Linked DNA regions of Homo sapiens. The protein of the gene in region 1 interacts with the protein of each later gene in a pairwise test. Each region holds a gene or a part of one and is shown in the gene's direction. Other genes may lie near its edges.

Region 1 (7,818 bases):
GTCCAGGGTACCCAAGCAGGGACTGGGTATTGGAGTAGTAAAATTCAAGCACCCTTTGGTCCTATGGGGGAACGAGCTTGGTGGATTTCAGTGCTTAAGAGCTTAGTTTTTGAGGCCAGAGAGAGTTGATTTCAAATCCCTGCTTTGTCACTCCCTTGCAGAAGTTTGTTGCAAAAGTCTGAGACTCAGTTTTCCCTTTTTTGAAAAAAATTTTTTATTTATTTGTTTATTTTTAAGACAGAGTCTTGCTCTGTCGCCCAGGCTGGAGTGCAATGGCACAATCTTGGCTCACTGCAACCTCCGTCTCCCGGGTTCAAGCAGTTCTCCTGCCTCAGCCTCCCAAGTAGCTGGAATTACAGGCGCACGCCACCACACCTGGCTAATTTTTTGTATTTTTAGTAGAGACGGGGTTTCGCCATGTTGGCCAGGCTGGTCTCAAACTCCTAACCTCAGGTGATCCACCTGCCTCAGCCTCCCACAGTGTTGGGATTACAGGCGTGAGCCACCACGCCTGGACTAGTTTTCCCTTCTTTAGAATGGGGTCATAATAGTATCTACCTCAGAATTACTCTAAAGATTAAATGAGAAAATCCACGTAAAGTGCTAGGTATGGTGTTGGGCATGTAGAATACTCCAAGTGGAGGAGTAATGCAGTTATGCAGATTGAAGAGGCAATGTGATAAGTATTCAATGGGAGTAAGTGTAAGGTACAGCACGGGAGAGTGAGATACCTAACTCAGTCTAGGGGTGCATTTTTAAAAGAGGTGATATTTAAGCCAACAACTGAATCACTGGTAGAAATTAGCTGAGTGAAGAAAGGAATGCTATTCCAGCAGAGGAAATAGCTGCACAAAGCCCATGAAGCAGGTAAGACAGCCTAGTATTTTGGAGGAACTTTAAGAAGTTCAGTGTAGTTGTAGTGATGTGGGGGAAAGGGGTAGGAAATAAGACTAGAAAGGTAAGCAAGGGCCAGATCCCAAAGGGCCTTGTATGCCTTTTTGGGGAGTGTGACTTCATCCTAAGAGTAGTGAGGGAGCCAGTGAAGTGTTTTGTCCCATTTGTGCTTTGGAGTGCTTACTGTGGGGTGCTGTGAGAATGGATTGAAGCAGGAGAGACAGGAGGCAGGGATACCGGTTTTGACGCTATTGAGGTAATCTAGGCTAAAGAGAACTGTGACCTGGTAGAGGAGATTTGAGAAGCACTTGGGAGGTAGATTTGAGAAAACTTGGCCTTAGGTTTGGATGATTAAGCAGAACGGAGCTCCATTCACTGAGATGAGAACACAGGGAGGCATGGGTTTGGAGGGAAGGTCCAGTAGGCTGCTGGATATGTGGGTCTGTAGCTCAGGAGTGATGAAGCTGGAAAGATTTGAAAGTGTGAGCACAGAGGTAATTGAAGTCTGGGGATGGTTCTTGGCTCATTGTTTATTGGTTGCGTGCTTCTCTCCTATTTCAAGTGGCTCTGCTGGTGAATGCTTGAACTGTTCCTCTTGTCTTCCTGTGATTGTTTAACCCCTTAGTTTGGGCTTCCCACCTCCTCCTGTGCACTTGAAGGGTAGCTCTGGGGTACAAACTTGTCTTTGCAATGCTCCCTCCTCCATTCGTCATCAGGGCTCAGCTTGGAACAGCCGTTGATACCTTTAAGCTTCACAGGGGTCTTGAGGTTAGAAGACTTGAGTCCTCAGAACTGGAAAGAAAAAAAAAATACCGGACTTTCTGAGGTGGTTATTTGGGAGGAGGTAAGCTCCCTACTGCTTGCGCAAGTGCAGGTAGAGATTCCAGGTGGTTCTGCAGAGATTCCATTATTAACTGAGAGGTTGAACTGAAGAGTCTTTGGGGTGTCTTCCAAAATGTGGCTTGGCTCTCAAAGTGACTCTAGGTGCTGGGACGAAAAAGAATGAGATTTTTCTAAGAGTCCCTGATTTCTGGGCTTGAAGGCTCTGAGAGATCACCCAATCCAGCCTTCCCCTCTACCTCTGTCCACAGTAGAAATTCATTATATTTGACAAAGACATTTAGCACAGTCCCTCACACAGACACATGCTAGGCACTCACTCATTTATTGAGTGAACAAACAGAAGGGGGTAGTGTAGAGTCATGCAGACCCTGACTTGAATCCCAACTTGCCCATTCTAGCTGCATGATCTCAGGCATGTTATTAAACTCTCTGCCCCTTAATTTTCTCATCTGCAAAATGGAGATGACACTGTTTACCTCACAGGACTGAGGATTAGTGAGAGCTGGTTGAACTGGAAGCACCTAGCAGAGCCTCAGTAAATGTTTGTTGCCCCCAGTCCCCCCAGGGCATCAGATGTAGCTTATTTGCAATCAGCCAGAGCCCTAGAGATAGTTTTTCTGTGTTGCTTCAGAAGCTGCAGTTACTGAACTCTTCCTGTCCTTCCCCTCCACCTGCCTTCACAATCCTGTTTATCAGTATGAAATAACTCTTGGAAAAACTCTAAAAAGGGCTGGGAGCATGGAGTAGTGTAAAAGAACGTGGAGTCAGGGATGCTGTTTTTCATTTCTGGTTCAGACCTTTGCTAACAACTCAGTGACACTGGGTGACCCTCTGTGAGGTGGGGACCACCTCATCTTCTTCCCCAAACTTCCTGTGCAGCCTGCATTCTGTCTCAGTTGGCTCCACCTCCTTCATCTTGTGCAAAAGCTAGAAACCCGAGTCATTCTGAACACTTTCCTCACTCCTCCTCCATCTCTTTCCTAATCTAATTAGTCACCAAGTCATGTCTGGTCTATCTCTGAAATAGCTTCAGAATCCATTCCGTTCTCTTCATCCCCAAGTGTGCTGTCTGGTTCATGCCCTGCCTGCCCAGCACCTGGGCTACTGCCTCCCTCACTGGCTCATCCTCCACACCGCCGCTGGTTACTTCTCTAAACAAGGTTCTCATCACGTTCCTCTCCTATTGGAAACCCTTCTATAGTGCTCTGTTTTCTCCGGCATAAAGCCCCAACAAAACTCTTTAGAGTGGTGTTCATTTGTCCAAATATTTGTGGAGGCTTGCAGGTGCCAGGCACTGTGCTGGGCCCTGGGGTGCCATGATGAGTGAGGCGCAGTGTCTGCCCCTGGGGAGCTTACTGTTGGGTGGGGGAGATGCTAGACAGAAACTACTCTTAGACACTGATACCTCACGGCTAACTGAAATGCAGGGGGAGAGGTGCTTGGTCAACGAGTGTATAGAGGGCCTGCCTTTCTGGGTTCACACTGCATTCTTGGCTCTGCGGTTTAACTCATTCCCTGAATGCACTATGCTCACTCTTAAGTCTGTGCGTTTGTCTTTCTTCTCTCTTCTGTCTGGAGTGTCCTTCCCTGCCTGCCTTTTGGAAAATGTCTATGCATCCTTCAAGGACCATTTCCAATATCACTGCCACTTCCTCCAGGAAGCTTTCCTTGACCCACTTCATACATTGTTCATTTATTCATTCTGCAAACAGCACAAATTCCTCCATCTAAGCTTCCTTGATAGCACATAAGTAGATTTTTCTGATGGCACTGATCAGATTGTATCACAATTATCTGTGGGCCCCTTAAGGGCAGGACTTCATTTACTTGTGTCCTCAGATCTACTACAGAGCCTAGTACAATATTGTCACTCTGAAAATGCGTGCTGAATGAAGTCCTTTAACAGCTCCGTGGCTTAGTTTCTTCATCTGTAAAAGAGGGCAACTAACATCTTCCTTTTTTCTGTTAGGAGGCCATTGGCAAGATTCTGCCTGTAGTGTTTGTGTTTGTGAAAGTACTTTGTAAACTACAGAGGAGGTCTTCAAATGCAGGACAGAAAGGAAAGGGTTTAATTGCTGCCAGACTACAATAGCCAGAAGGGCAGGAGACCTGCCTGGCAGCACCTGCTTTGTTGGCCTGGGGATGTTTCCTAGGTGGTTTATAGGTGGTTTCCTAGGTGGGTTTTCCTAGGTGCCAGGTGCGGTTTATAGCTTTGCTCACAGGGCTTATAGTGGGGCAGCTACTTCTGGCTTCGTGTCTGGCCTGTTCTTTGGGTGTGCCCAGATTCTGCAGAGTTCCCACTCCCTTTCCATCCTATGCTGGAATCCTGAGCCCTATTGCTTAATGAAGGAGTGTTGTAGCAGGAGGCAGGGGGAGTCATTGGGTGCAAGGGAGTGGTCCAGCCTTGTCTCTTCCTCCAGCTCACAGCATTACTTGGGCAAGTCCCTCCCTCCCTCCCCCATCTGTAAAATGGGGGTTAGGTTAAGTGACTTGTCTTCTGGGTATTTCTCTTGTCACACCTCTCCAACCCCTTGGGAATCCTGTTCGTTCTCTAAGTCCTAGCTCAAATGCCACTCTCATGGAAACACTCCCTGATTTTACCCTCCTTCCTTTGCAGTCCTATGGCACATGACTTATGTCTCCATTTCAAACACCTGTTTTCCTTATGCTGTTTTGTTAGACGTTACACAGTGTCTACATGTTAAGTCTTGTTAACTGTGAGTGCCTTCAGATTGCTTCACTCTCCTTTATACCCCACCCCGCACAGTTCACCTGGCCCAGGACTTTGCTGATAACAGTAATTAATATAGCAATAGCAGCTATGACTTACTGATCATTTGCTTTATGCCAGGCACTGTTGTAAAAACTATTTTTCTTATGTGAGTGGTTTTCAGACTGTCTTTTCAGTCACTGTGAGGGGTTTTCAGAGCCCCCTCAGAATGTAGCAAGGGAGGGGGTTCCATATTGTAGGGGCTCTGGAGCTCCCACCTTACTTCAGCCAGAGCAACTTTCTTGTATTTGTTTTATTTATTTTATCAAAGGATTCTTTCTTTCTCTCTCTCTTTTTTTTTTTTTTTTTTTTTTTTGGAGACAGGGTCTCCCTCTGTTACTCAGGCTGGAGTGTTGTGGCACAATCACAGCTCACTGCAGCCTCCAACTTAGGCTCAAGTGATCCTTCCGCTTTAGCCTCCCGAGTAGCAGGGACTACATGTGTACCACCATGCCCGGCTGATTTTTAAAAATTTTTTGTAGAGGTGGGATCTTACTATGTTGCCCAGGTTGGTTATCAAAGGATTCTTTAGCTAAAAATTAAACTGACAGAATTTTGCTGCATTTATTTTTTATAATCTGCAGAACAGTCCAGTGAGGAAGGAATTGTTCTATTTGTGAGGAAGCAGGCTCAGAGAGATGAAGCCACGGGCCCACAGTCATGAACTTAGCTGATGGGAGCAGAGTTTTAAATTGAGATCTGTGTGAGCCATTCTTGTCTGTGAAGGAGTCTTGCTAGTAGCTATGACAGCTTCTAGGGTAGAAAAGCTCCCAAGGATTGCTGAGTGGGTGACAGGGCCTGCTTCCTGCCCTCCCCACAAAAAAACCTCATGAATTTGGCCTTAGCCTTAAGAGTAATTATTTCAAGCTATCAAACACAATAAAAAGAGAAAGCCCAGGCTCTCAGTGGCTTGGCCACTGGTGCACTTACAGGTTGATCTAGAACGTATCTAGATGGTGCCGTTCTCGGAGCTGGGCCTAGCTGCTGTCTGTGCCCTTGAGCTCAGCTTGTCTGCAGATGTGTTGGGGCTGTGCTCTGCTGGGTCCTGTGCTAGCCATTTAGGGAGATGGAGCGGAACACTCCGAGGGCTACTGGTGTGGGAAGATGGATGAGAGAGGGAATGCCCCCATGTATGCTCTAATGCACAAATGCCCTGGACATAGAGCCAAGAGACCCAGGTTCTGGTCCCAGCCCCTCCACACAGCCTGTGTGTGACTTTCCTGGACTTGAGTCTTGTCCTCTGTAGGAGGCTATTATTAATAGTGTTTATTGAGTGCTTAATTTGTGTCAGGCCCAATGTCAAAGGGCTTCACATAGCTGGCCTCATTTCATTCACAAACTAACCTGAGAGGTAGCTATTATTATTCCCATTTTATAGCAGAAGATGTTGAGGCTTAGAGAGGATAAGTCAGTCCAGTTAGTAAATGGCAGAACCTGAACTTGAACTCTTGAACTGGTTGTTTTTTGTTTGTTTGTTTGTTTTGAGATCGGATCTTACTCTGTCACCCAGGCTGGAGTACAGTTGTGTGATCATGGCTCACTGTAGCCTCGACCTCCCCAGGCTCAGGTGATCCTCCCACCTTAGCCTCCTGAGTCATTGGGACTATAGGTGTGCGCCACCACACCTGGCTAATTTTTGTATTTTTTAAATAGAGATGTAGTTTTTCTATGTTGCCCAGGTTTTTAGTAGAGATGTTGTTTTTCTGTGTTGCCCAGGCTGGTCTCTAACTCCTGGGCTCAAGCAGTCTGCCCGCCTCAGACTTCCAAAGTGCTGTGATTACACAGCTGTGAGCCACCACGCCTAGCTGTTGAACTGGCCTTTGAAAGCATTGTATCGTATTGCCTTAGGAATAGGGTCTCCCCTGCCTGCCTCACAGAGTTGTGAGTGAGGATAGGGAAATGTTTTTACATCAGGGTAAGGAAGACATGCTGTGGATGAATCCATGCTATAGCTATGTCATTTGTGACTGATGAGGGTCAGGGGTGTGTGTTAGAGACTGCGTTTGCCCCATGAGTTCTGCAGATAGAGATGGGAGTACCACAGGATGGGCATTTGGAATTCTGTTTGATTCATTTGCCTATTCATTCATACAGGAAATATTTACCAAGTATCCATTCTACACTGGGAGCTGGGGATAAAGTGACAAACCAGACAGGATCCTAGCCCTTGTGGAGCCCCTTGATGTGCAGGAAAGGAGAGTTAGGAAAGGAGGATTTCAACCCTGACTCTGCAGGTCATTGGCGGGGTGACTTTGGGTAACTCGTTGCTCCTCTGGAAGCCTCAGTTTGCCCATCTGAGCAGTGAGATCATAATTCCAACCCTACCTATAGGATCAGTTGAAAGGATGGTGGTGGAAGTGCTTTATGGTTGTAAAGTGCCATACTCTGCCTAGTTTCTGGCCTCATCATTCTGACTGATATCTTGCTCTTCCTGCAGGGCTGCCCAGGAGCTGCAGGACAAGCACCAGGAGCCCCTCCGGGTAGCTACTACCCTGGACCCCCCAATAGTGGAGGGCAGTATGGTAGTGGGCTACCCCCTGGTGGTGGTTATGGGGGTCCTGCCCCTGGAGGGCCTTATGGACCACCAGCTGGTGGAGGGCCCTATGGACACCCCAATCCTGGGATGTTCCCCTCTGGAACTCCAGGAGGACCATATGGCGGTGCAGCTCCCGGGGGCCCCTATGGTCAGCCACCTCCAAGTTCCTACGGTGCCCAGCAGCCTGGGCTTTATGGACAGGGTAAGTAGTAATCTTGGACTCCGGGTACCTCTGACGTGGTTCTGAGTTATCCATGGCCAGCCTTTGTCCTTCCTGTGGGTGTGCAGGCAGCCTGGTCTCTGGCACCTTAGCATCTTGCTTCCAGCTTCAGTGTGTATCCTCAAAATGATAAGTTTGTCAGCTAGTTTTGTTGCAAGCATTTATTTGTATTGCTTGCTCATGCTTACTTTCTTTTGCTTACATGTCAGCAGCTGTTAGCTGGCTGTTGAGTTTCTGTTCCCTGTGTCTTTTTCATTCAGGGATACATGCTGAAGGAGCAGCTCCTGTTTGGGATATGTTATCTTTGTGGCAGAGAGAAGGAGCAGGAGAGCTAGCAAGAATGCACAATGCCTCTTAAAGCTTCTCTGAAGTACTGTATGTCTTGCCCACTTGCATTCTTTTGGCCAGAGCACCCCCTGATCAAGACTGACATCAGTAGGATGGGAAAGGATGCCCCTCTGCAAGCCACCAGGCAGTGGGAGAGGATGTACAATGCTCTTATAGGGAAGGGGAGATTAGCAAGTAATCTAATAATAGATTATTGAACTGGCCTTT
Region 2 (8,085 bases), on another chromosome or scaffold:
CTTCTTTCTGCAGCTGAAGCCACCTGCCTGGGCCGCAAGCCTTGGCCTCACCTGGAGCTCAGCTCCCCGCTCCCGAGCCCAGCCAAGCCCAGGTCCTGCTCCCTCCCCAAGCCTGACGCCTGACATCCCTCCACTGCCGGCGGCTGCTCTGCCTGCAGTGTGACAGGGAATCTCTGTTGCAACGGAGGCCAGCTCAGTCCAGCGGGGAGGAGGAGCTGTCCCGGGCCGGTGGGCAGGGCCAATTGGGAGAGACAGGTGTCTGGAAGGACCCGGAGGATGAGGCCTGGAGCTAAAGGCTGGACCCTGAGGACACTGTCCTGCCGGCTCGTCTGGAGCAGGTCAGGCCCAGCAGGGTAGGTGATAAACTCCAGCAGAATGGCCAGGGAGGGCAACGCTAGGCTGGGGAGGGAGATGGTAGGGGCCGGCCAGCCCACAAAGATGAGGGCAATCCAGGACCCCCTTGGGGTCATTTTCTCTGTGCCTGACAGGCATCCCCCGGATAGTCCCTCAGAGCACGTCCAGGCTGTGCCCACTTCCCAAGGACATCACCAAGTCACTGTCCACCCTCAGAGCACCTGCTCCTCACACACGCTGTACCCCGGACTCCCCCGGGTGCCAGGTGGGTGCTGTGCCTGCCTCTTGATTCTGGGAACCTCCTCTCCAGCCTGGTCCCTCACCAGAGGCAGCCCTTAAAGACCATCCGCCCTACCTCCTCATTTTACACTCGGGGAAACTGAGTCCCATAGAACAAACAGGCAGCCGCACCAGGCCTCCCGCTCTCAGGTATGCTCTTCCACCCCCTTCTCTGGCCTCAGGACAGCCTGAGACTGGGCAGGATCCAGAAGAAAGGGCTCTGTCCTGGTGGGGAGGGGTTCGCCCAAGGCAGTGACCGGCTCTGCCCAGGGTTCCCTGGAGTCTGGCTCTGGGGACAGGGTGAGGGGCAGACTTGCCTGTTTTCAAGAGCTGAGGGATGGGGGAGAGGATGGGGAACCTGGACCCTGGGGCAACCTCCGCTCAGGACTGTCCCACTCAGCTGCCGGTCCGTGCCTCTGCACTGGTCACTGGGTGGACGGCAGACGCATGGCATCCCAGGACACTGCACAGGGAACAGCTAGCTCCAGGTCACCTGAATGCCATTCTCAACTGGCCCTCTCCTCCCAGGGATAGGCCAGCGGGGAACGAGGAGTGACCAGAACCCAGGACTCCCGCCCTCATCTGACAGCCACTTAGCCCACTTCCCACTGGGGACTCTTCCTTGGAAGGTTGCTCTGGAAACCCCCTACTGTGTGGGGTAACCTCGCCGGGCACCCCACCCTGGCCGAGCACTGCCATGCCACACAAGAAGGATGGAACCTTCCTCCCCAAGCTGGGGTGGGGCAGGGGCTGGGGGAGATGGAAGGCCCTGCACCGCCCCCAGCCTCCCTGCCACTCCCCACACCTGGGAGATGCTCAGGACCCCCATGTAGCCACGGCCGCTCCCCCCAGCTTCTTACCAGGTCGAGGACAGATGGGGACGGACGCTGCTGCCTCGGCACCTGCTGATTAGTGCGGCCCACCCTGAGGGGCGCCCCTGTTCCCCAAGGTGGTTGGGAGGGCACTCGCGGGTCCTGGGGAAGTTGGATGGCCCTGGGAATGGCGGGTCCTGGAGGGTGCGGGAGCCTGAGGGGGAACTTGGGGGTCTTAGGTTAGACCGGGGCCTCCCCGCGTGGGGAGGGCGCAGCAGACTGTACCTGGGGGCGCATTGGCCGTCGTCAAACTCGAAGGTCCGGTTGGTGTAGCCCCCGCCGCGCGCCTCCCGGCAGACGCCCCCCGGGGTCCGCGCCCCGTCAGGGAGTGGCATGCGGCCTGGCAGCTCGGACCCGACCCGAGGGAGAAGCGAGTGGGAGCCGCCACCTTCTTCCCTCGCGTTGCCCTGAAAAACATTTTTTTTTTCCTCGCAGATTAGCGAGGAAAAGACGCCAGTTCCAGGGTCGGGTGCAGGCGTCTGTCCGCGCGCGCCCCCTGCCGGCCGCGCCGGGACCCGCGGCGGCTCTGGCCCAGGCTGGGACGGGGGTGCGGGGTAGGGAGGGCGATCCGCTCCCGCCGCGGCCCTCTGAGCCCTCAAAACTCCGAAAAACAGGACGGGGTTCGTCAATGGCTAGAAAAGCCCAAGCGCGCCGCCACCGGGCCCTACACCCCTGGGAGGGCTCCGTGGTGGGCGGGGGCTCAGGGGGCTCTGGGTCCTTGGCGGGCAGCAGGGCACATGCGCTGCTCGGACCGCCAGCGTCCAGCCGCTGCGCCCAGGGACCGTCAGCACCTCCCGCTTGTGCTGCTCTGCCGTGGTCAACACTGGTCATTGAACACAAGCCAGATTCAAGACGACTCCCCGCCCCCCCGCCCCCACACCCCCCGCAGGCTGCGGCATCTGTGGGTGGGCGCCACATCCTGGGCTTGGCCTGGGGGAGGGGGATGACTGCACCCCGCCCTGTGCTCTCACCCAGACGGGCACACACAGCACCTTTAGACGGGTGGGGAGGGGCCCCAACTTAAGATGCTGCAGGCCAAAGACTAGGAAGCAGAGGGTCCCCCTGCGGGCCCCCTTTCCCGTGCACGTGCTCACACTGTTACACATGCGTCACCCTGGCTCAGCCTCACACAGAGCTCTGGAGAACTGCGATTTCTGTCCCCAGAGCTTTGTTGGTTTGCAGGGTGGACCAGGCCCCTCACTAAGCCAGGACTGTGCCCACGAGGGCCAGGGGGAGGGCCAGGTCCATTTGGAGGGCGCATGCCATGTACTTTGTGGTCCCTGGCCTCCCCAGTGTCTCTCCAGAGGGTCCTTCCCTGTTTCTCCAGGAGGCAGCAGGCTGAACACAGATGCTTTTGAGGGGTGGGTGGGGAACACTCGGGGAAGTCTAGGATGCTAAGTCCCCAGCAGAGGTTCAGCCTGTGCCCCCGCCACACAGCTCGTGGGCATCTTGGGGGTTTTTCCTCAGGTCCCTAGATTGGCCGGTGCTGCTGCCGGGGTCCCACCACCCCTGGGCGGGTGCCGCCGGGGCAAGATGGTGGCCTTTCTGCCAACGCCCTCCTGCCTGGGGAACTCAGAAAAAACTGAGAGGCCGCACCATCTGCATCTGTGATTAATTAGCAGTAATTACACGTGTTGTCAACGGCAGGAGAGTCACAGGTTTGATGACATTCCGAGGGCTTTAGGGAAACAAAAACTTGGCCCCACTCTGCCACTGAGGAGCCCCAGATCGCCAGCCCGTCCATCCCTCCCTGGCCAGGGGCAGGGCCGGGAGAGGGGCCCAGGTCCCCGAGAGCTTTTGCCCTCCTCTCCAACCCCGTCCTCCTCCATGTCTGACCTGCAGCCAAGGCTGGGCGGAGCAGGGATGGAGACACCACCTTATATTACATAACCTCCCTCTGCTCCAAACACCCTTCACCCATCTTTGGCCCAAAGTCCAGGATGCCAGCCCGAGGCCCAGAGCCGCGCCTTCTCCACAGGAGACTGGGGCACCCCGGACAGACGTCCCCGTGTGGTGGCACCTGCCCGGGCTCCTTCTTGCCTCCCCTCTCGGGAGGAGAGCCCCTGCCACCCACCCCACCTCCTCCCGCTACGACCTCAGCACGAGCCAGGCCAGGGATGTCCTCCCAACAGTCCAGCCTCACCCCCCACCCTCGTCCCCTCTGCTTCCCTGAGGGCCCCCCGCAACCTCCGTGAAAGAGGAAGGGTCTCCACCTCCCCCTTCCCTCCGTCATCCCCCCAAAAGTATGTACTGGGGGACTCAAGCCCAGCGCAGGGCGGCTCCTGGAGTTCAGCGGGGAGGTGAGCAAACACCTGGCGCCGGAGCTTTCTGAATTTGGATGGGCAGGACCCCCGCGATCCCGCAGAAACCTGTTGAGAGTGTGAGGTGAGGGGTCGAGCTGGGGCCCCAGGGCATAAAGCGGGGATGGTGCTTGGGCAGGGCCAGGTGAAGGGACAGACGGTTCCGAGGGTGCCCGGCAGAGCTCAGCGGGAGGAAGAGCACGGACGATGGTGGCCTGGGGTGGGGACAAGATGCCCCTGGTTCTGGGCGACCCAGAAGTGTGGATGGTGACCCTACCCTGAGGCGCAGCGTCTGCAAGCGTACTAGATTTGGGGGAAAATGGAGGCGTGGGCGACTGGGGAGCAGGCGGGTACCCTTCCCCCTCCCTGTGTCCCTGGGTCCCCCAGGCCTGGGCTAAACAACTCAGCCCAGCCCGCCCACTCCCACCAGGGGCTGGGCTCCTAAGGGCAGAGCCCGCATCTCCAAAGTGCCCAAGGGCACCGAGACCACCGCATAAGTGGGAACCGAGGCGACCCCCGGGAAGGTAAGGGTAGAGGCAGGGCCACCTGGGCTGGGGCCCCTTCCCCTGGCGTCCTGCGGGGGCATAGAGTGGGTGGACCCCCCGAGTCCCTTTCCAGCACCTTCTTTGCAGGAACGCGGGTCACGTGGGCCCCGGGCTGGCTGCGTGGGGAGGGCTAGAGCGCATGCGCTATGGGGGCGGATTGCAAGTGGGGGTGGGGTGGGCTAGGTGGAAAGCACGTGGCAGGTGGGCAGAGCACACGTGAGGGGGCGGGGCTGCCTGCGGAAGGGGCCGTGCGCGTGGGGTCGCTCCGCAGCTGCGAGTTCATGGCGTCCCGGTGCTCCGAGCCCTACCCGGAGGTCTCCAGAATCCCTACCGTCAGGGGATGCAAGTGAGGAATTGGGCTGGCGGCCAAGGGGTTGGGGGCCCAAGGCCTGTACCCAGGGGTTCTTCCGCAAGTTGCTGGGCTCCACCCATCCTGGGCCTCCTGGGGCGGAGCCCTGGACCCTGGGAGAGGGGAAGGGGTGCAGAGAGGGCCGGGCCGTGTCCCTACGTGACCCAGTCTTGGCTTCCACCCGCACCCCAAAGACGCCCATTCTGGCATCTGGGACTCCTGGTGGCCTTTTCTGGGGTTCTCAGGGCCCGGTGCTCTTGGCTTTCTCGGCAGCGGCTCCCTGTCTGGTGCCCTCTCCTGCTGCGAGGACTCGGCCCGGGGCTCGGGCCCGCCCAAGGCCCCTACGGTGGCCGAGGGTCCCAGCTCCTGCCTTCGGCGGAACGTGATCAGCGAGAGGGAGCGCAGGTGAGTGGTGGTGCCTCCCAGGGGTGAGGGCGCTGTAAAGGGGTGGAGCGGGTGAGATTATGTTCGGGGCTGCCACCAGGTGTCAGGCAGCTGGGAGGGGCTCGTGGCCTGTGCCCAGGAGAAGGACAGACTGCACATCTCCAAGTAAACCAGAAAAGCCCTGTTGGGGAACATCCTGCAGCCCCTCTTTATCCTGAAGCCTTGGCCTCTTGAGGCTGTGCACCTGTGACCCTCTGTGCTTCTGACTGCCTCTGACCCTCGCTGTCTTTTCCACACCGCAAAGCAGCCATGGTTTGGGCCTGGGCTGGACAGCCTGTCGCCGAGGTCCAGGGGTCAGGCCCAGGCTGTGCTCTGATGTGGATCTCGGGGCTTCAGACCACGGGGGCAGCTCTGAGTCATCTTGTAGCCCCCTCTGCCTGACAAGCGCCCAGGGTCTATCTGGCAGGTTCTAGCAGTTGCTGTCCCTTCTCGGGGAGGGCAGGAGGGCCCAGAGGTATTTGTTTCTTGACCGGAACCAGGAAGCGGATGTCGTTGAGCTGTGAGCGTCTGCGGGCCCTGCTGCCCCAGTTCGATGGCCGGCGGGAGGACATGGCCTCGGTCCTGGAGATGTCTGTGCAGTTCCTGCGGCTTGCCAGCGCCCTGGGGCCCAGTCAGGAGCAGCACGCTGTGAGTTGTAAGGGTAGACGCCGTCAGTCCTCCGGCATCACGGTGATGGGACATCTCACCACCTTGCAGGCAGTGTGTCCCCTGTCATCCCCGTCTCCTTCAGCCCTCTGGGTCTCCACGGCTAGAGCAGGCCACGTTTTCGGCAGGGCACTTCCTGATTTGTTCAAGCCTTACCTGTTGTTATTCTGTTCCTGGAAAGGAGCAAGCCTTCCTTTCCAGCCCTCCTGTGCCCCTGAGTCCTGTTCATTGATGGGTTGCCGAGATGCTCCGTGCCAATTTGGGGGAGAGTTGGGGTCTCCTGATCCTCCCTGGCTGAGCACCCCCTAGATCATTTCTCTGCACGTCTCCAAGAGAGAGGCTCCTCTCCCCTCTCCAAGGCTCTGGGGGCTCTGGCTGACCCCGTGAGTGCTGGGGCTGAGGACCTGTGTGGGGAATGAAACTGTGTTGTCATCTGTGAGGTCAGGGGTCCCAGCATTTGCAGTGAGGCCCTTGGGTATGCACAGCCTGATTCAGGAATGGTGGGGCCTTTCGGGGGTGGAACCTCAGCCTCGTTGTCAACCTGTACTCTCGCCCCCAAGTTCCAAGCGGGGACCGAGCTCACAGTGACCCTCCAGGCCCTGGGGTAGCAGTCTTGTCACCGTGTCTTGGGTTTCTCAGCTGACTGTCTCTGTCTTTGTTTTACATGTTTACTTAAATTTCAGATTCTTGCTTCCTCCAAGGAAATGTGGCACTCGTTGCAGGAGGATGTTTTACAGTTGACGTTGTCGAGTCAGATTCAAGCAGGTGTGCCAGACCCTGGGACGGGAGCGTCCAGCGGGACTCGGTTAGTGTCTCCTGGGGCCCGCTCTCCAGGGCTGGGTGACCCTGGGAGCAGCAGACCCAAAGCCCCCTGGCATGTCCTCGGGAGGGTGTGGCCTGGAGGCCCGGCTTGGCCTCCGCAGGTGGTGACCTGCCCAGGGCCCTGCCAACTCAGGTGGCCAGGTGTGAGGTGACCAACATGGGCGAGCTCCAGCAAGGGGGGAGCGCGGTCAGCAGAATTGAGGGCCTGGGCTGGTGTGGAGGTGGGAGGTGCCCGGGAGGATCTCTTCTGCTCCTGTGTGTGGGGAATTTACAGGTGGTCAGTGAGGTGTCATACTCCTCCCCATGGGCAGCTTCAGGAATGCAGTTTTCTGAAGTCAAGATAATTTGGTTCTTTTCAGAATGGCAGCTCCCCAGGTTGAAGGACTGTCTGCATCTTGTGTTTAAATGTACCCATTTTACCCCAAAGCAGGCTGGGGCATGGGACTGGTGGCTAATTAGCTGTGGAAGAATCTAGAACCGGAGGAGTTGGGCAGAGGGAAACTGGGTAGACAGCTGTGGAGCTTGGCTGGCCCAGGGCCCCTGGGCAGAGGCTGGCTTGATGCTGGGTGGTGCCTGGGGTGTCCTGGGGATGGGTCCAGCCCTCTGCTCTTGGGGTGGGTGGGGGCAGCCTTCCAGGGGGCTGGGGAATAGACCCAGGATCCTTGTCATGTTGCTCCTTCTAGAACCCCAGATGTGAAGGCGTTTCTGGAAAGTCCTTGGTCCCTGGATCCAGCGTCGGCCAGCCCAGAGCCCGTGCCGCACATCCTTGCGTCCTCCAGGCAGTGGGACCCCGCGAGCTGCACGTCCCTGGGCACGGACAAGTGTGAGGCACTGTTGGGGCTGTGCCAGGTGCGGGGTGGGCTGCCCCCTTTCTCAGGTGAGTCCTGGGTGTGCATGTGGGGTGCCTTTGGCCTGGGGAGCGGCGCCAGGCTGTGCTTTAGCCCTAAGAACAATGGGGGCTGTTTGCAAACGGGGTTCGAAGTTTTCCCAGGCCCTTGTGTTGGTGAGAAACCCACGTGTTGAGGGATGAGCTTGATTCAAGGCCCCCGGGCTGTGCCTGCTTTTGTGAAAAGGAGGACGTGTGCTCTCGGGAGGGAGGAAGTGTGGCTCGAGGAAGGGAGAGTCCTGGGCAAAGGCCACCATGGGAGCTGTTCCTTCTATCCTGTCTCCTCCTGGGACTTCCATGTGCTCCAGGGAAGGGAGGGCCTGATCTTCTCCTCCCTGGGTCCCTGGGTCTGCTGGGAAGCATGGGGACGTAGAGGGACTTGGCCCCATCCTGGTCACTCCCTGGGTCTGCAGGAAGTATGGGGACGTAGAGGGACTTGCCCCATCCTGGTCACTCCCTGGGTCTGCTGGGAAGCATGGGGACGTAGAGGGACTTGGTTCTGTCCTGGGTCTGTGGGAAGTGGGGAGGTAGAGGGACTCGGCCCCATCCTGGTTGCTCCGTCCAGCTTTGTGGCCCTGCTTCTCTCACC
Region 3 (7,818 bases), on another chromosome or scaffold:
TAGTGAGACCCCATCTCAAAAAAAAATATGAGAAGGTTCCTGCCCTTAAGAGGTTTAGGATCCAGCTGAAGAATCAACATGTGCACATGAAAAAAAATGGCCGTGCCCTCTAATGTCATATGAGGTCAGCGTATGAATGACGTTGGGTGCCTGCCCTGCATATACATATGTTCTTTGAGCTCATTCAAGGGAGAATTCCCATGGATTGGCACAACCAGTATGGTTTATAGAGCGATCAGGAATAAAATAGGTTTTCTTCAAAACAAGAGGCAAAAATGTGGAGCCCAGGGTGGGATCAGGGGCCTTCTGCAGCTGTCGCAGTTGGAACATGTGACGAAAGCCAGTTGATGTGACAACTGCTGGGTGGGAGGGACAGGCTTGGGGGCGGGGCTGGGAGGGCTCCTTCCCTTCCTGACCCAGGGATGGTCTTTACTTCTCCCTGGCACCTGTAGACCTGTCTTTCTTGTGTTTCAGATTTGCCATACGGATGGGAACAAGAAACTGATGAGAACGGACAAGTGTTTTTTGTTGAGTAAGTGTCTGCAAAGAAACCACTCTCAGCTGTTTTGCTTTTTAATAGGAATTTTTAATTATAAAAGTAATACATAGTAACTGTAGAAAAATACAAAGTATAACAGTGTGTATCTGTAATCTTAGCAGAAGTGACTACTTTTAACATCGCTGGAACTTTTAACATCGCTAGATTTATTCTTCTATTTTCCCCGCACACGCATCCTTAAAAAAAAAAAGTAGGGAGGCCAGGCATGGTGGCTCATGCCTGTAATCCCAGCACTTTGGGAGGTCGAAGTGGGTGGATCCTGAGGTCAAGAGATCGAGACCATTCTGGCCAACATGGTGAAACTCCGTCTCTACTAAAAATATAAAAATGAGCTGGGTGTGGTGGCACGTGCCTGTGGTCCCTGCTACTCGGGAGGGTAAGGCGGGAGAATCACTTGAACCCAGGAGGCGGAAGTTGCAGTGAGCTGAGATCGCGCCACTGCACTCCAGCCTGGGTGACAGAATGAGACTCCTTCTCAAAAAAAAAAAAAAAAAAAAAAGAGGGAATGCACTGTGTGGACTGTTTAGTAACCTGCTTTTTCCATGTAATATATTATGAGCATTTTCTTGTATCCATATCTATTTTTCAAAAAGATGCTATTTAGCAGCTCTAGAGTTATTATTTTGTACAGATATACTATAATTTATCAAATTGCCTATTGGACATTAATGCTAAATTCCTGTTATAGAGAACCTATAATTATAAATAATGTATTGAGCATCCTTATCTGTAAGACTTTTTCACCTCTCTGATTCTGTCTTTAGGATAAATTCCGGTATCACGCAGCAATAGTAACCACCTGTCCAACATATAGCATGAGCCAGGCCTGATTCTAATCATCTTGTATCTGTAGCATTAGGTCATTGGATCCCCACAGTGCCCTGAGAGGTAGTATTGTTATTATCCCTAGCTTACTGCCAGTGACACAGACTTGAGGGGGTAAGTGACTTGTTAAGGATCCCACAGCAAAGAAGTAGCACAGCCAGGCTTTGAGCCCAGCACCTGCTCCAGGGACTGTACTCTTGACCACCGTAGTTAAGAGGAGAATTAATGTTTCACAACTGTCAACATTTAAATTAGAAGCTTGAATAGTCTTTGACAGGATTAGGATTGGTTGGTTAATAGAAGTTGATTTGAGCAGGAATTTTTTTTTTTTTTAAAGTTATGAATGTAACATAAACGTTTCAGTATTTGATTCAAGTACACCAACATTTAGGGGTCGGGCCAGCCCTCCTCTGAGTGTGAGTCCACTTGCATGGATCCAGTGTGGTCTTCCTTCCCCTAAGCATGCCTGTAACATAACATCTACAATTTCTACTTTCATTTTATGTGGGCGAAAGAGTACCTAGGTGCCGAGGCAAGAGACTGAAGGCACAAACTGTTTCAGTATAATAAAGAAAGTAGTTAGAATAAGAATAGTCATAATACAGGTTAGATATGGAGATGATCATGGACAATTATCAATCATTACTATAAACACTATTAATCATTAGCTTTTAATATTACTCTTTGTGGCATTACTAACATAACCTAGGAATAACTGGCATGTATAGGCTCAGGTGCTAAAGGGACATTGTGAGAAGTGACCTAGAAGGCAAGAGGTGAGCCTTCTGTCACACCCGCATAAGGGCTGCTTGAGGGCTCCTTGGTCAAGCGGTAACGCCAGTGTCTGGGAAGACACCCGTTACTTAGCAGACCGCGAAAGGGAGTCTCCTTTCCTTGGAGGAGTCAGGGAACACTCTGCTCCACCAGCTTCTTGTGGAAGGCTGGGTATTATCCAGGCCTGCCCACAGTCATCCGGAGGCCTAAACCCCTCCCTGTGGTGCTGTGTTTCAATGGTCACGTACGTTGTCCGCTTTCATGCTCCTCCCGTACTCCTGGTTCCTCTTTGAAGTACGTAGTAGATAGTGGTAGAAGAAATGGTGAAAGTTTTAAAGTCTTTGATCTTTCTTTTAAGGGCAGAAAAGAAAATGCTGACGTATGCTGCCTTCTCTCTCTGCTTCGGCTACCTAAAAGGGAAGGGCCCTCTATCCTGTAATCACGTGACTTGCTTCACCTTGTCAATCACTTAGAAGATTCACCCTCCTTACCCTGCCCCCTTGTCTTGTATGCGATAAATATCAGCGTGCCCAGCCGTTCGGGGCCACTACCGGTCTCCACATCTTGGTGGTAGTGGCCCCCACCCTGGGCCCAGCTGTTTTCTCCTTATCTCTTTGTCTTGTGTCTTTATTTATTACAATCCCTCGTCTCTGCACACGGGGAGAACACCCGCTAAGCCCAGTAGGGCTGGACCCTACAACTTTAAGGTTGAGCAAACACAGTATTTTCAAAGAATCTGATTGCTACATCATTTGGGAGTTTTATGGTATTTTTCTAGCATTTTCACTGTAGTTGATTGAACCAAAACTTTTTTTTTAGCTGCTTGTCTTTGAGGCTCTCCAAAGCATTCGACCACATTTTCATAGATACCACTGACACTATTTTTCACCTCCCATGTTATCAGTTTGTGTAATAGTAGCTTGCTGGTAATGTAGTTACAGTAACAAGTTCAAATGACATGTGTGTTTTTTGAGCAAACCTGGTGAACTTTTGGTGCAAAACTGATATTGAGAGCAAATAGGCCAAAGCTTGCTTGAGAGAAGTCTCCCAGGCCACCATAGGCAGCCCCAGGAAGACGGGGCTGTCTAGCAGTTGGATAGGTGGGAGTGCCTATTATTTGTTAAAAGGCTTTTTGCCTAACTTGTGAAAGTTTTTTTTCCTCAACTAATTAAGGGTATCAACGCATTGGTTGTATGTTGAAAATGTTGAAAATGTTTTTTTTTTTTTTCCAAGTTTTCTTTCTTTTTTTTTTTTTATACTGGGTCTTGCTCTTCTTATCCAGGGCTGAGGTGCAGTGACACAGTCACAGCTCGCTGCAGCCTCAACCTCCTGGACTCAAGTGATCCTCCTGCCTCAGCCTTCTGAGGAGCTGGGACTACAGGCTCATGCTGCCATGCCCAGCTAATTTTTAAAGACTTTTTTTTTGTAGAGACTGAGGCTCAGTATGTTGCCCAGGCTGGTCTTGAACTTCTGGCCTTCAGCGATCCTCCTGCCTTGACTTCCCAAAGCATTCATATTACAGGCATGAGCGACCACACCTGACTGAATTTCTTAAATTTTTTATGTAGTCAAATCAATTTTCTCCTGTGCAGTCTTTGCCTTTGCATTCACGCTTGGAAAGTTACTCCCTGAAATGGGTATTAATCAACCAAGAGCAGCAGTTCTCAGGCATGGTTCCTGGACCAGCAGCATTAATATCACCTGGGAATTCAATAAAAATGTACATTCCCAGGCCCCCACCCCAGACCTACTGAATCAGCACTGGGGTGGGGCTTGCAATCTGCGCTCTAATAGTCATCCAGGGGATCCTGATGTTCCCTAGCTTGAGAGCCTCCCGTCTAGAGCAGGGGCTGTCTCCTTTGCCTGTAAAGGGCTAGATAATATGTTTTAGGATTTGCAGGGCATATGGTTTCTGTTGCAATGATTCAACTCTGCCTTTGTAGTGCTAAAGCAGCTATACACAATATACAAGTGATGGGCGTTGTTGTGTTCCAATAAAACTTTATTTACAGAAACAGGCAGTGGGCCAGATTTGGCCAGCTCCTGGTCTAATCTAGAGGAGTAAGCAAGGGCTTTGGGGGGAACCTGGAAATTGGCTCCCCTGGCTAGTTCTCACTTTTCTGAGCCTGTTGCAGTGGGGTGCTGGTAAATGTTTAGCACCAGGTCTTCAGGGGGAAAAAAGCCACTGTTTGTTTCCACAGTATAAATACTTTGGCCATAGCTGATTTCATGCTGCCAAGGTGAAGTGAGGAATTGGGAAGAGATAGTCACGTTTGGCTCTTGTAAGCCAGTTTGAGCCAGTCTAGCATAGAACTGCTCTGTTGTGTGTGTATAATATTGGGGTCACAAATTAAGGTTGTTATAAATAGAATGAGGATGAGGATGGTAATAATTAGAATAAAGGTTGGATTATTACTCTTGAGTCTTGGTACTTATAGGGAGATGAGTATATATTTTAAACTAATTTTACACACACATACTTTTAAAATATGAAATTTCATCTATATTTAGAGGCTTCTTAATAGTTTTTAAGATATTCTGAGGTCTTTATCTCATATCCCAAGAATACATTTAAGATATAAAAAGTAAATTCTATTATAAGGAGTACTCTTTTCATCCATATGTGCCTTTTTTTTTTTTTTTTTTTTAATGGTTACCCAGGGTCTTGGTCTGTCACCCAGGCTAGAGTGCAGTGGCACAATCATGGCTCACTGCAGCTTTGATCTCTTAGGCTCACGTGATCATCCTCCTACCTCAGCCTCCCAAGTAGCTGCGACTACAGGCGTGTGCTATCACACTTGAAATTTTGTTTAGTGTTTGTAGAGATGAGGTCTAACTATGTTGCCCAGGCTGGTCTTGAACTCCTGGGCTCAAGTGGTCCTCTTGCCTTGGCCTCCCAAATTGCCGAGATTACAGGCGTGAGCCACTGTGCCCAGCCTCCAGTATATTTTAATACCATTTCTACAAGATTTAGATCAATTCCAAATCAAAATGAGTGCTCGTAGGAGGTATGAGTGCAGAGTCTTAAAATGAAAATCGTTAGAATTTTGGTAGTTGGCAGGTTTCTTATTTACAACTAAGACTTTATCATTTTGAGTTTTCTACTTCTCTACGTCTTTAGGCCCTTGCACAGGGCTAAGAGATTTAATTGAAATCTACTGAAAAGAGTGGCTGACAGATCTTATAGCTACATTTACATGAATTACATAAAAGCCCAAAACCTTCTCAAGAAGCCTTTTTTGAGATCTAAGGATACATGGCAATAGTTATTGTATGTTACAGCGTATGTTATAGGCAGTTCTGAAGGAAAGGATTCGATGACTATCTTTTTTTGGCACAAATGTGATCCTTCTGGAGGCCAGAAGATAGATTCAGTGGGCCCCAGTTCTTTCAGGTTTAAGGAATAAGCATTTTGGTCTATGAAAAATGGGGTTTTCCTAAAGTATAAGATTGTCTTATATTTATAAATGCCTGTGTTCATTGCTGTGGGTTCACTGCTTTCTCTTTTGGGCAGCCATATAAATAAAAGAACCACCTACTTGGACCCAAGACTGGCGTTTACTGTGGATGATAATCCGACCAAGCCAACCACCCGGCAAAGATACGACGGCAGCACCACTGCCATGGAAATTCTCCAGGGCCGGGATTTCACTGGCAAAGTGGTTGTGGTCACTGGAGCTAATTCAGGAATAGGTAGGCTCTTCACTTAGTTATTTATCTTTGGGACTGCTATAATGAGATCCACTTAGATCTAGCTATAATGGAATTTTGTTTAGTGGTTCTCTGATTTAAACATGACTTTTATCCTTTTCAGATATCGTTTCATTAACATCACTACCTCTTTTTAAATCCTAATGTTGTCATGGAAGCCTGTGTAGGGGCTGACCTTGAAGTCTCTGAAAGCTGAACACTCAGCAAAAGACTGTGGCTATTTTGGTATTCAGGGATGAGAGACAACAGGCTCCGTCTAAGAGTTTTTGACCTGGTCTGCATGGTGTATGGGCATATTCCAATTACCTGGGTTATTCAAACCAAAATTGATTGGTAATAGAATACGGGGAACAACAAGGTATTATGTCTTTGGAACAAAGGATACTACAGGTTTCGACTGGTCACTGAGCATATCATTTTCTTTTGGGCACAGGATCTTATTTCTCTATAAAATTGGAGAATGAGTTCCTGTCTTCACCTCTTAATTGCCAATGTTTACCCACAGGGACTATCATGGGTAGATGGCTCAAGAGGGTATCCTTGCTTCAATATGATGGGCCATTAAGGAGACAGGAGCAAGGCGGGAGCAAACCATAACTCTTCATAGGATTTTATTCTGATTTTGCTTTGATCTATTTACATAAGTATCTGAATCAGTGAGAACCACCTGCTTTGAGTTTAGATATGCATCTTCAGATTTGTCGACATATGAAACGTTGCATTTGGCTGTCTTCTGTCAAGTTCTCTCTGTCCTTTTGGTCCCCCGCAGCCCTCACACGGCCCCCTTGATGCCCTCCTCTACTCATTTGTTTCTCTTTCCTAATTTTGTTTTTATTTTTATTTTTTGTGGGTATATAAAGGTGTCTATATTTATGGGGTTCATGAGATGTTTTGATACAGGGATGCAATGTGAAATAGTCACATCATGGAGAATGGGGTATCCATCCCCTCAAGAATTTATCCTTTGAGTGATAAACAATTCAGTTATACCCTTTTAGATATTTTACAATGTGCAATTAAGTTATTATTAACTATAATCAACTTGTTGTGCTATCAAATAGTAGGTCTTATTCTTTCTTTCTATCTTTTTTGTACCCATTAACCATCTGCACTTCTTTCTTAATTTTGAACAATTCCTTGAAGCTGCAGAAATATTTTCTAGCATGATTAGGGAGGCACAGGAGGTAAAAATACATTGTTCAAGGGTCAATTATTGTGTTGTACAAGGTGTGAAATCTACCAGGTTGCCATCCGAGTGGAGAATTTTTTTACTGTACTTGCCTATGAAGGTAAAGAAGCAAATGGAAATTTTTTTTTAAGAATTGAAAGGATTTTATTTCAAATCAACTCTCATACCTCATCCTGGGCTCCAAATATGTTCAATCCACTTGTCTGAACTTCTGCATTGGAGTAAATTTTATATAATTGTCATTGAAGTCAAAACTGATGGCGTAATATTTAAAACAATGGCTGGATCCCCAATCTAAGAAGAATACATTTTGTTGATCATATTAAGTACTGTTACAGTGAATGCATGGACCCATACAATTGTGGAATAATTAAGAAAAAAGGACTTAAGGGCTTAAAAATGTCTTTTTAACAATTTAACAAGTTAGCCAGAAACTTTAAAGATCTTATTCTCTTAATCTTCTAGCTAGACTCTTTTTCTGTAATGAGTAAGATATGTGACTACTGATTGTTTTTTGTGTTAAGTGTTCGAACTGCTCCATGTGACATTAGATAGCAGACTCTTGAATAGAGCTAATGCTCTTTCAAAGATTTGCAACAGCAGACCTGCGACATTGTAATCCAGGACTGATAGAGTTGGTTCAGAATATTAAAAGGGTGATATCTAGTTAGATACATAAGTCTTGATGGAGAGGAGGAGATTCTGAAGCATTGAGAATAAATTTGTGGTTGCTGAGAATGGCCCTCACATGTTGGAGTAA

Evidence for each region.
Region 2: the proteins of PEF1 (region 1) and SOHLH1 interact in binary tests that used the Homo sapiens proteins (3 or more experiments, as listed by UniProt).
Region 3: the proteins of PEF1 (region 1) and WWOX interact in binary tests that used the Homo sapiens proteins (3 or more experiments, as listed by UniProt).

Annotation. Positions count from the first base shown.
Region 1 is NC_000001.11:31,634,649-31,642,466, reverse strand, and holds part of PEF1 (peflin), read left to right. Parts: exon of another isoform or gene 1-858; coding exon of another isoform or gene 859-867; intron 868-6,944; coding exon 6,945-7,245; intron 7,246-7,523; coding exon of another isoform or gene 7,524-7,621; exon of another isoform or gene 7,622-7,801; intron 7,802-7,818. UniProt on the Homo sapiens protein: Calcium-binding protein that acts as an adapter that bridges unrelated proteins or stabilizes weak protein-protein complexes in response to calcium.
Region 2 is NC_000009.12:135,696,014-135,704,098, reverse strand, and holds the start of SOHLH1 (spermatogenesis- and oogenesis-specific basic helix-loop-helix-containing protein 1), read left to right. Parts: upstream 1-4,617; 5' UTR 4,618-4,631; coding exon 4,632-4,696; intron 4,697-4,972; coding exon 4,973-5,104; intron 5,105-5,622; coding exon 5,623-5,770; intron 5,771-6,471; coding exon 6,472-6,593; intron 6,594-7,293; coding exon 7,294-7,487; intron 7,488-8,085. UniProt on the Homo sapiens protein: Transcription regulator of both male and female germline differentiation. Suppresses genes involved in spermatogonial stem cells maintenance, and induces genes important for spermatogonial differentiation.
Region 3 is NC_000016.10:78,109,304-78,117,121, forward strand, and holds part of WWOX (WW domain-containing oxidoreductase), read left to right. Parts: intron 1-474; coding exon 475-532; intron 533-5,672; coding exon 5,673-5,851; intron 5,852-7,818. UniProt on the Homo sapiens protein: Putative oxidoreductase. Acts as a tumor suppressor and plays a role in apoptosis. Required for normal bone development. May function synergistically with p53/TP53 to control genotoxic stress-induced cell death.